2 linked regions of the Homo sapiens genome follow. The protein of the gene in region 2 purifies or fractionates together with the protein of the main gene of each other region. This does not show direct contact. Each region holds a gene or a part of one and is shown on either strand. Other genes may lie near its edges. The genes, in order: GNL2 and REPS2.

What was found.
Region 1: the proteins of REPS2 (region 2) and GNL2 fractionate together in Homo sapiens (co-fractionation; one large-scale study listed by BioGRID). This does not show direct contact.

What each region holds. Positions count from the first base shown.
Region 1 is NC_000001.11:37,589,303-37,593,124, forward strand, and holds part of GNL2 (nucleolar GTP-binding protein 2), read right to left. Parts: intron 3,505-3,822; coding exon 3,410-3,504; intron 1,544-3,409; coding exon 1,404-1,543; intron 1-1,403. UniProt on the Homo sapiens protein: GTPase that associates with pre-60S ribosomal subunits in the nucleolus and is required for their nuclear export and maturation.
Region 2 is NC_000023.11:17,134,991-17,138,812, reverse strand, and holds part of REPS2 (ralBP1-associated Eps domain-containing protein 2), read right to left. Parts: intron 3,553-3,822; coding exon 3,407-3,552; intron 1-3,406. UniProt on the Homo sapiens protein: Involved in ligand-dependent receptor mediated endocytosis of the EGF and insulin receptors as part of the Ral signaling pathway. By controlling growth factor receptors endocytosis may regulate cell survival.

The sequences.
Region 1 (3,822 bases), on a different chromosome or scaffold from region 2:
TTATTTTTATTTATTTATTTGAGACGGAGTCTTGCTCTGTCGCCTGGGCTGGCACGCAGTGGCGCAATCTCGGCTCACTGCAAGCTCTGCCTCCCGGGTTCATATCATTCTCCTGCCTCAGCCTCCTGAGTAGCTGGGACTACAGGTGCCCGCCACCACGCCCGGCTAATTTTTTTTTGTATTTTTAGTAGAGACGGGATTTCACGTGTTAGCCAGGATGGTCTCAATCTCCTGACCTTGTGATCCACCCGCCTTGGCTTCCCAAAGTGCTGGGATTCAGGCGTGAGCCACCGCGCCCAGCCTGAACTATTTAACCCACGTATGCATGTCAATGTTTTTCTCCCCTCCTCATACTGGAACTGAAGCTTACGTACTGGCTACATTTCTGGGAATTTATTATTCAATGCAAGTAAAAATAAGCAGACAAACAACAGATTCTTTCTTTGTTCTGTGTGAAACTCATTCCACTCAACCCAGATTGAATCCTTACTGCACTTCAAATTTTAGCAATTGACAACCAATGTGACCAGCACCCCTTCCTTCAGCTGAGAAAAAATCTCAAGGATCTCACAAAAGCTGAACGTACGCAACACCAAAGTTCTACCAACTCAATCCTAATTCTACGCTGTCCCAAAGTTTGATGGAATTACCACTTAAAACAAGTTTGCCTACCAAAATAAATAATATTACTAATAGCTGTTATCAATTTAGCTCTTATTAGGTGGTGTGCTATGTGCTCACTATGGGCCAAGTGCTTTACAGATGCTTCATCTGTAGCCAATAACCCAAGGAGGTCGGTTATCTATACTTTCTGTTTTTTTTAGACGGAGTTTCGCTCCTGTTGCCCAGGCTGGAGTGCAATGGCACGATCTTGGCTCACTGCAATCTCTGCCTCCCAGGTTCAAGCGATTCTCCTGCCTCAGCCTCTCCTGAGTAGCTGAGATTACAGGTATGCACCACCACGCCTGGCTAATTTTGTATTTTTAGTAGAGACAGGGTTTCTTCTTGTTGGTCAGGTTGGTCTCAAACTCCTGACCTCAGGTGATCCGCCTGCCTGAGCCTCCCAAGTGCTGGGATTACAGGCGTGAGCCACTGTGTCCGACCTATCTATACTTTCAAGGCAAAGAAGTTAAAGTTCATGGAGAAACCCAACTAAGGGCACAGGAAGGGATAGAGCAAGGATTAAAATTCAGGTCTCAACTCCAAAACCTGTGCTTTGATCCACTACACTACTGCACCTCATACTAAACATGAAAAGGTGAAAAGAGAGGTCTTAGAAAGTTCATCATTGCTACATTAAAGTCACTATTTTCTAAGGAAAAACAAAAGACAAATATGTTAGAGAGGGATCTGCATGGAGTTTGCCCAGGAAATTCCATCACCAGGGATATCCTACATCTTACATGAGGCCGGATTCGATCATGGAGAAGAGACATTGGTAACTTGCTTTGCTTCATGACAACTTTGTATGGATCCTTCATAACTGTATCCATTTCCTCTTGAAATTTTTGTAATGATGACTGCTTAATCACACGTGTGTTTCCTGTTTTACAAATAAAGAATGTTGCCACTTAGTTAATATTTGCGCATCCATCTTCCACTGACACGGTGAAAGGCAAGATTTTAAATTACCCTCACTTACCCAAGCACCTGATCCATCCATCCCTTGGAGCTGTTTTCAAACTTAAAAGAGGAAAAAACCAAAAAACTGCCTCTCCCGCACTTGCACACTATGAACTATTCCACAAATCCAGACCCACAAAGGGTTTCAATAGTTTTCCAAGTCCAGTTTCCTAACTAAATGAAACTGAGAAATAAATAGCGTGGAATGGAACTGAGATCTGTCAAATGTCCTACTACCTGCTAGATCTAGCAGAGAAACCTGGAGCCAATCACAGCTGATCAGTCAGTATAGACAGAGAATCTTGAAACACTGAAATTTGAGTCATAGTTAGCCACTTTTAGGGTTATGAGGATTCAAAGGGACTATTAACCAATGAGTCCATGCAAGGGAACAAGATAGAGCCCTGCACCACCACCTGGAAAACATCTTGTGAGGGAGACCCTGAAAAGCATTCAATTAAACAGCATGCTGCGGCATAAATGCAAAACAGCAAGGTGGTAATGACGGTAGCAAGTAATGCTTATATTATACTCACTATTTGCTAGGCGCTATTCTAAGCACTTTATATATATTTACTCTTTTTTTTTTTTTTTTTTTGAGATGGAGTCTCACTCTGTCACCCAGGCTGGAGTGCAGTGGCACAATCTCAGCTCACTGCAACCTCTGCCTCCTGGGCTCAAGGGATTCTCCTGCCCCAGCCTCCCAAGTAGCTGGGATTACAGGTGCCCACCACAACACCTGGCTAATTTTTGTATATTTAGTAGAGATGGGGGTTTCACTGTGTTGGCCAGGCTGGTCTCGAATGCCTGACCTCAAGTGATTCACCAGCCTTGGCCTCCCAAAGTGCTGGGATTACAGGCGTGAGCCACTGCGCCCTGCCTGTATTTACTCATTTGATTACCATGACAGTCTTATGAGATAGGTTTCATCTTATTCTCATGTTAGGGATGAGAAAACTGATGAACAGACAGACTTAATAACTTGCCCACTGGCACATAAATGACAGAACTAGAATTCAAACCCAGGCAGTCTAATCGAGTCACAGTACCCAGCAGCCATGCTAAATGCTTCTCTGCAGAGTTTTGACACCTTTCTGTGTTGCAGTTCTTAGGAAGTATCCCACTGAAAGTATAAGAGACTCAAAGATAGCTGCCACCTGCCCCCAAGGACAGAGGTCAAACACCAAGCAAACACTGGGGTCTGATCATCTAAAGTGCCCATACATTTACCAGTGGCTAAGGGCAAAGTTAAGAGCCCAGACTGAAATGAGACAGGGAGTTTTCCAAGGAAGAAGCTGTGATCACCCTGAGACTGAAGATACTCTATTCACTGTTGGACAGTTCAACAGTGAGACCCTTTAATTGTCACCCAAGTTCAAATAAAAACCCCATTAAGAAGTATTTCAGAGGAACTTCGGGCTAATGCACTTACCCTGAAGGATATATGCACAAAACCTACAAGGCCACCTCTCCAACAGTATCTCTTTAGGAAAGCAGAAAAGATTAAGATGAGCATTCTAAGGTCTGTGAATGCTAGTCATTAAGGATGGTCTTATCTGCTTAAGAGGGTTCAATTACAATTACTAATGGTGAGCGCTCTTCAAAAAGAAGTTATTTATTAAATTGACCACCACTACTTTTCCCAGTAATTCTTCTTATCCCTTTCTCAGATAATCCTTGCCGGTTTCACTCACCAAAAACTCCTGCTGTTTAGACATTTAAACATCCTAGCCGTTTCCACTCAGCATATATTTTGTAGAGCAAAGTAACAGGGGATAATACTCACCAAACCATTTAATATTTGGCTCTACTCTTGCCACTGTGCCAGAAGCCACCGTTGATTGATATTGCAGGGGTTTAATTATTTTACCACGACTGTTCCTAAATTGAGGAAAGAACAGATATTGGTTGACAACAGAAAAATGGCAACAGCGAAGTTTGATTTACAGAATATATTTTCCATCAAAAGGACTTCTTACTTTGGTTTTAAATGATCATGAAATACCAATTCCAGTAAACACAAAGTACTTCTACATTTGAAACAGATTGCCCAAAAGCCATTTAACCTCTTGCAACAGAGCACGTAATGATTTCTGCTAGATGAATAACAACTAATGGTGACGTTCTAAAAAATCTGGTTACTGTTTACTTTAAAAAAAAAACACATACATACTTGAGTTTTTTGGGTAATTATTCAAA
Region 2 (3,822 bases):
TCTGGACCCTTGAGGGTCAGAACTCTGATTCATGAGAGGTGTTAAACTAACAAGTGGTTAACAACACAGGGCTCCAAAAATAAAATCTCATATTCACAGGCGGTCAGGAAGATAGACACCAAATGAAACAAATTTATTGGGATGAATTATTTACACCTGAAGTAATTCCCATTTTATAACTTGAATAAAAGCTGTGAAATGGGCCTTTTCAAACATTTGTGTTCCATTTATTCCAAGACATTTTAATAAGTATTTCTTCCTGACAAACCATATTAACTGGAATGCCCTTTTTGTGTAAGAATTAATAGCACTTAGAAGACCTGCAGGTGTCCCCTGTGAACAAGTCTGAAGGAAAATAATACAAGAACATTATTTTTAGCAAAAATTCTACATTAACTTAGCCAGACTACCTACCTCTACCTTATGTATTATTAGGCATGAATGCCTAAGTATATGTGTGTGTGTGCATAAATGTGCACTCGTGTATGTGCATGGACCAGCATATATCTGTGGCTCTTGAGAAAAATACAGAACGTTTTAATACCAGTATTTCCCAATTAACAACAAATTCACAGAACACGCATAACCAGAGTGACCACGCATCCTACTGCGCCCATTACAGTCTCCATTTAAAACTGTCTGTCCAGCATAAGTACATTAGCACTCTCTTTACTTTTCAAAACCGTCCATGGTTGGGATGATAAATCAGTGCAGTTACCACAGGGATAATCTACAACCTTTCATCCCACAGCAAGAAACACCGAATTCTTAGAGCAAAAGAGCAACTGATGTTCTCCTAGAAAAACAGCCATATGTGCCATTACTGGGAGATAGGTTCTAGAAAAGAGCAACTGAACTAGAATGGACTGTGACCACTGTACAGATCTGATTAATATTGATAATTGGCTGGGTGCAGTGGCTCAGGCCTGTAATCCCAGCACTTTGAGAGGTTGAGGCAGGATGATCACTTGAGGCCAGGAGTTTGAGACCAGACTGGGCAACATAGTAAGACTCCATCACTATAAAAAATAAAATGAAATTGGCTGGGAATGGTGGCTCATGCCTGTAGTTCCAGCTACTCAGGAGGCTGAGGGGGAAAGGATCACTTGAGCCCAGGAATTCGAGGCTACAATGAGCCATGATCATGCTACTGCACCCCAGCCTGGGTGACAGAGTGAGACTTTGTCTCTAAAAAATAAAAATAAAAAATAGAAAGTGAAAAGACAGCCCACAGAATGAGAGAAAATATTTACAAAGAGGGCTCAATTTTCTCATATATCTAACAAGGGAGTTGTATCCAGAATATATAAAGAATTCATAACTCAAAAGTAAAAAGATTAATAATCCAATTAAAAGTGGGCAAAGGGTGTGAATACACATTTCTCCAAAGAAGATAAACAAATGGCCAATAGGCACATGAAAAGATGATCAATGTCGTTAGCCACAAAAGAAATGCAAATCAAAACCATGAGATCACACTTCACACTCACTAGGATGGCTATAATAAAAAAAAAAGATAAGTGTTGACAAAATGGAGAAATTGGAACCCTCATACGTTGCCAACGGGAACATAAAATGGTGCAGCCACTATGAAAAGTGTGGTAGTTCTTCGAAATATTAAAGACAGAGTTACCACATGACCTAGCAATTCCACTCCTAGGTACAGACCCAAGAGAAATGAAAATGTAAGTCCACACAAAAACATGTACACAAACAGTATAGTGGCATTACTCTTAAGAGCCAAAAAAGCAGAAATAACCAAAATGTCCATTGACTGATGAATGGATGAATAAAATGTGGTCTATCCATACAATGGAATATTATTCAGCCATAAAAAGATAAGTTCAGATTTATGCTACAACTTGGATAAACCTTGAAAATATTATGCTAAGTGAAAGAAGCCAGTCACAAAAGACCACGTTTCATTATTCCATTTATGTGAAATGACAAGAATATGCAAAGCCATGGAGACAGAAAGGAGATTCGTGGTTGCCAGGGGCTGAGGGGGAAGGAGAGAATGGGGAGTGATTGCTAATGGGCGTGGATATATATTATTTTAGGCATGACAAAAGTTAGATTGTGGTGATGGTTGCATGACTTTGTGAATAAACTAAGAACCACTGAATTGTACATTTAAAAACATGAACTGTATGCTATGTGAATTATATTGCAATAAAGCTGTTATAAAAAAGAGAAAAAGAAAAGATCTCTGTATGAACTCCACCAGATGCCCTGACATCTACTCTGGAGACTGTTAAGCCACTGCTGACTAAAATGAACATAAAGCTGAAATTAAAGTGGAGTGCTGGGGTAGAACATGGAAGAAAATTGAGCCATCTTTGTCCCTGATAGGGATTCTTCACCTTCCAGGCTTAACAGGGGCTGGAAGATGGTCAAAGTTCTCGGTGAATGTGATGAACAAAATATACTTCCTTTATGGACTGATACCACCAGGGACCTGTCCATTTGAAAAAAAGAAAATCTTCTGAAGGAGAGGGCTGCAGAGATTCAGAATGGGACTTTGGCTTCAAAGACAAGTTGCTAACATCTCCCACAGAACCTGCTGCTTTTCATTCTACAACGTGTAAGCAGAAGAAAATCTGCAGCAGCATCTGAGACCTGCAAGACCCCAAAAGCAGGGTCATGATGGGTCTTGAGCATTTATGTTAGTGACCGGTCAGGCTCACTTGCAGTCAAGTGACAGGAGCAGGTTTCTGTCCTCAACACCTCCCTCAATTTCACTACAAAGAAATTGAAGCAAGTGATGGCTCTTCTCAAAGCCAAAGTTTTACAGAGAAGGATAGTTTGTCCAGAGCATCATTGTCTCAGTCCCTGGCCATGTCCACAGGTGTCTTCACCCTCCCTCCAATACCTGTTCCAGCTGGTTAGATAAATATAATGGAAGTTCTGCATGTATCCATTCTGTGCTGAGGCGACCAACAACAGAAACTCTTTACGGAGATTTTAAAAGAATCACATACCACACCTACTGAAAGTGTGTCTGTGGGTGAAGGAGCTAGCCATTTGCCCTGAAGGAAAAGGAGATAACACAGGCAGAGAGGCAAAATTGCCACTTACAATACTTTCATCTTGCCAGGAAAATTTGGGCCCTCACAAGGAAGAGGAGTAGGAAACAACAGAAGGTGAGAGGAAGGGAAAGAAATCAAACCAAACCAAACACCACAGCCTAGGACTCGCCTGCCCCTTTAGGTCAGGTTAAGTCCTATAGCTTATAAAGCCTTCTATGTGACTGGGAGACTTGAATCCCATCACAGAGATGAGCAAGATAAACTTACAACCATGAAATCCTTCTGTTGGTGCGCACGTAAATGTCAACACATTTACATATCCGTCGACATCTCAGAGCGAGATTCCTACCTCACTCTTGTTTATGTGGTCTACTTACTTTTGGACTGTTGGATGCGGTTTCATGGTTGCCGCAGAAGCTGGCCCACTTGCAGCAGTGGAAGGCTCTTGGTTTTCTGTAGCTTGGTTTTCTGGTCTGAATTTCCTACGAATGGGCTTTGATGGTGGCTGAGAATACAGTACATCCTGTGGATTTAAAACAAAATAAAAATTAAAAAGTTAAACATTTCAATGTTCCCTCCACTCTTCCTTCCAGTGTCCCACATGCCTTTAGCCCCAACCCCAAGATCAGGAGGGTACTCTATTTACTGACCCATGGCTCAGCAAGAACTGGGGGGACACAGGCATCAGAGTCCAGTGGTCTTCCCTTTTTTCTTTTTCTTTTTAAATGTTTCAAGAAGTCTATTACTTCTTGTCACCTGAAACTCACACAGACCCTGTGTGCATCTCACACCA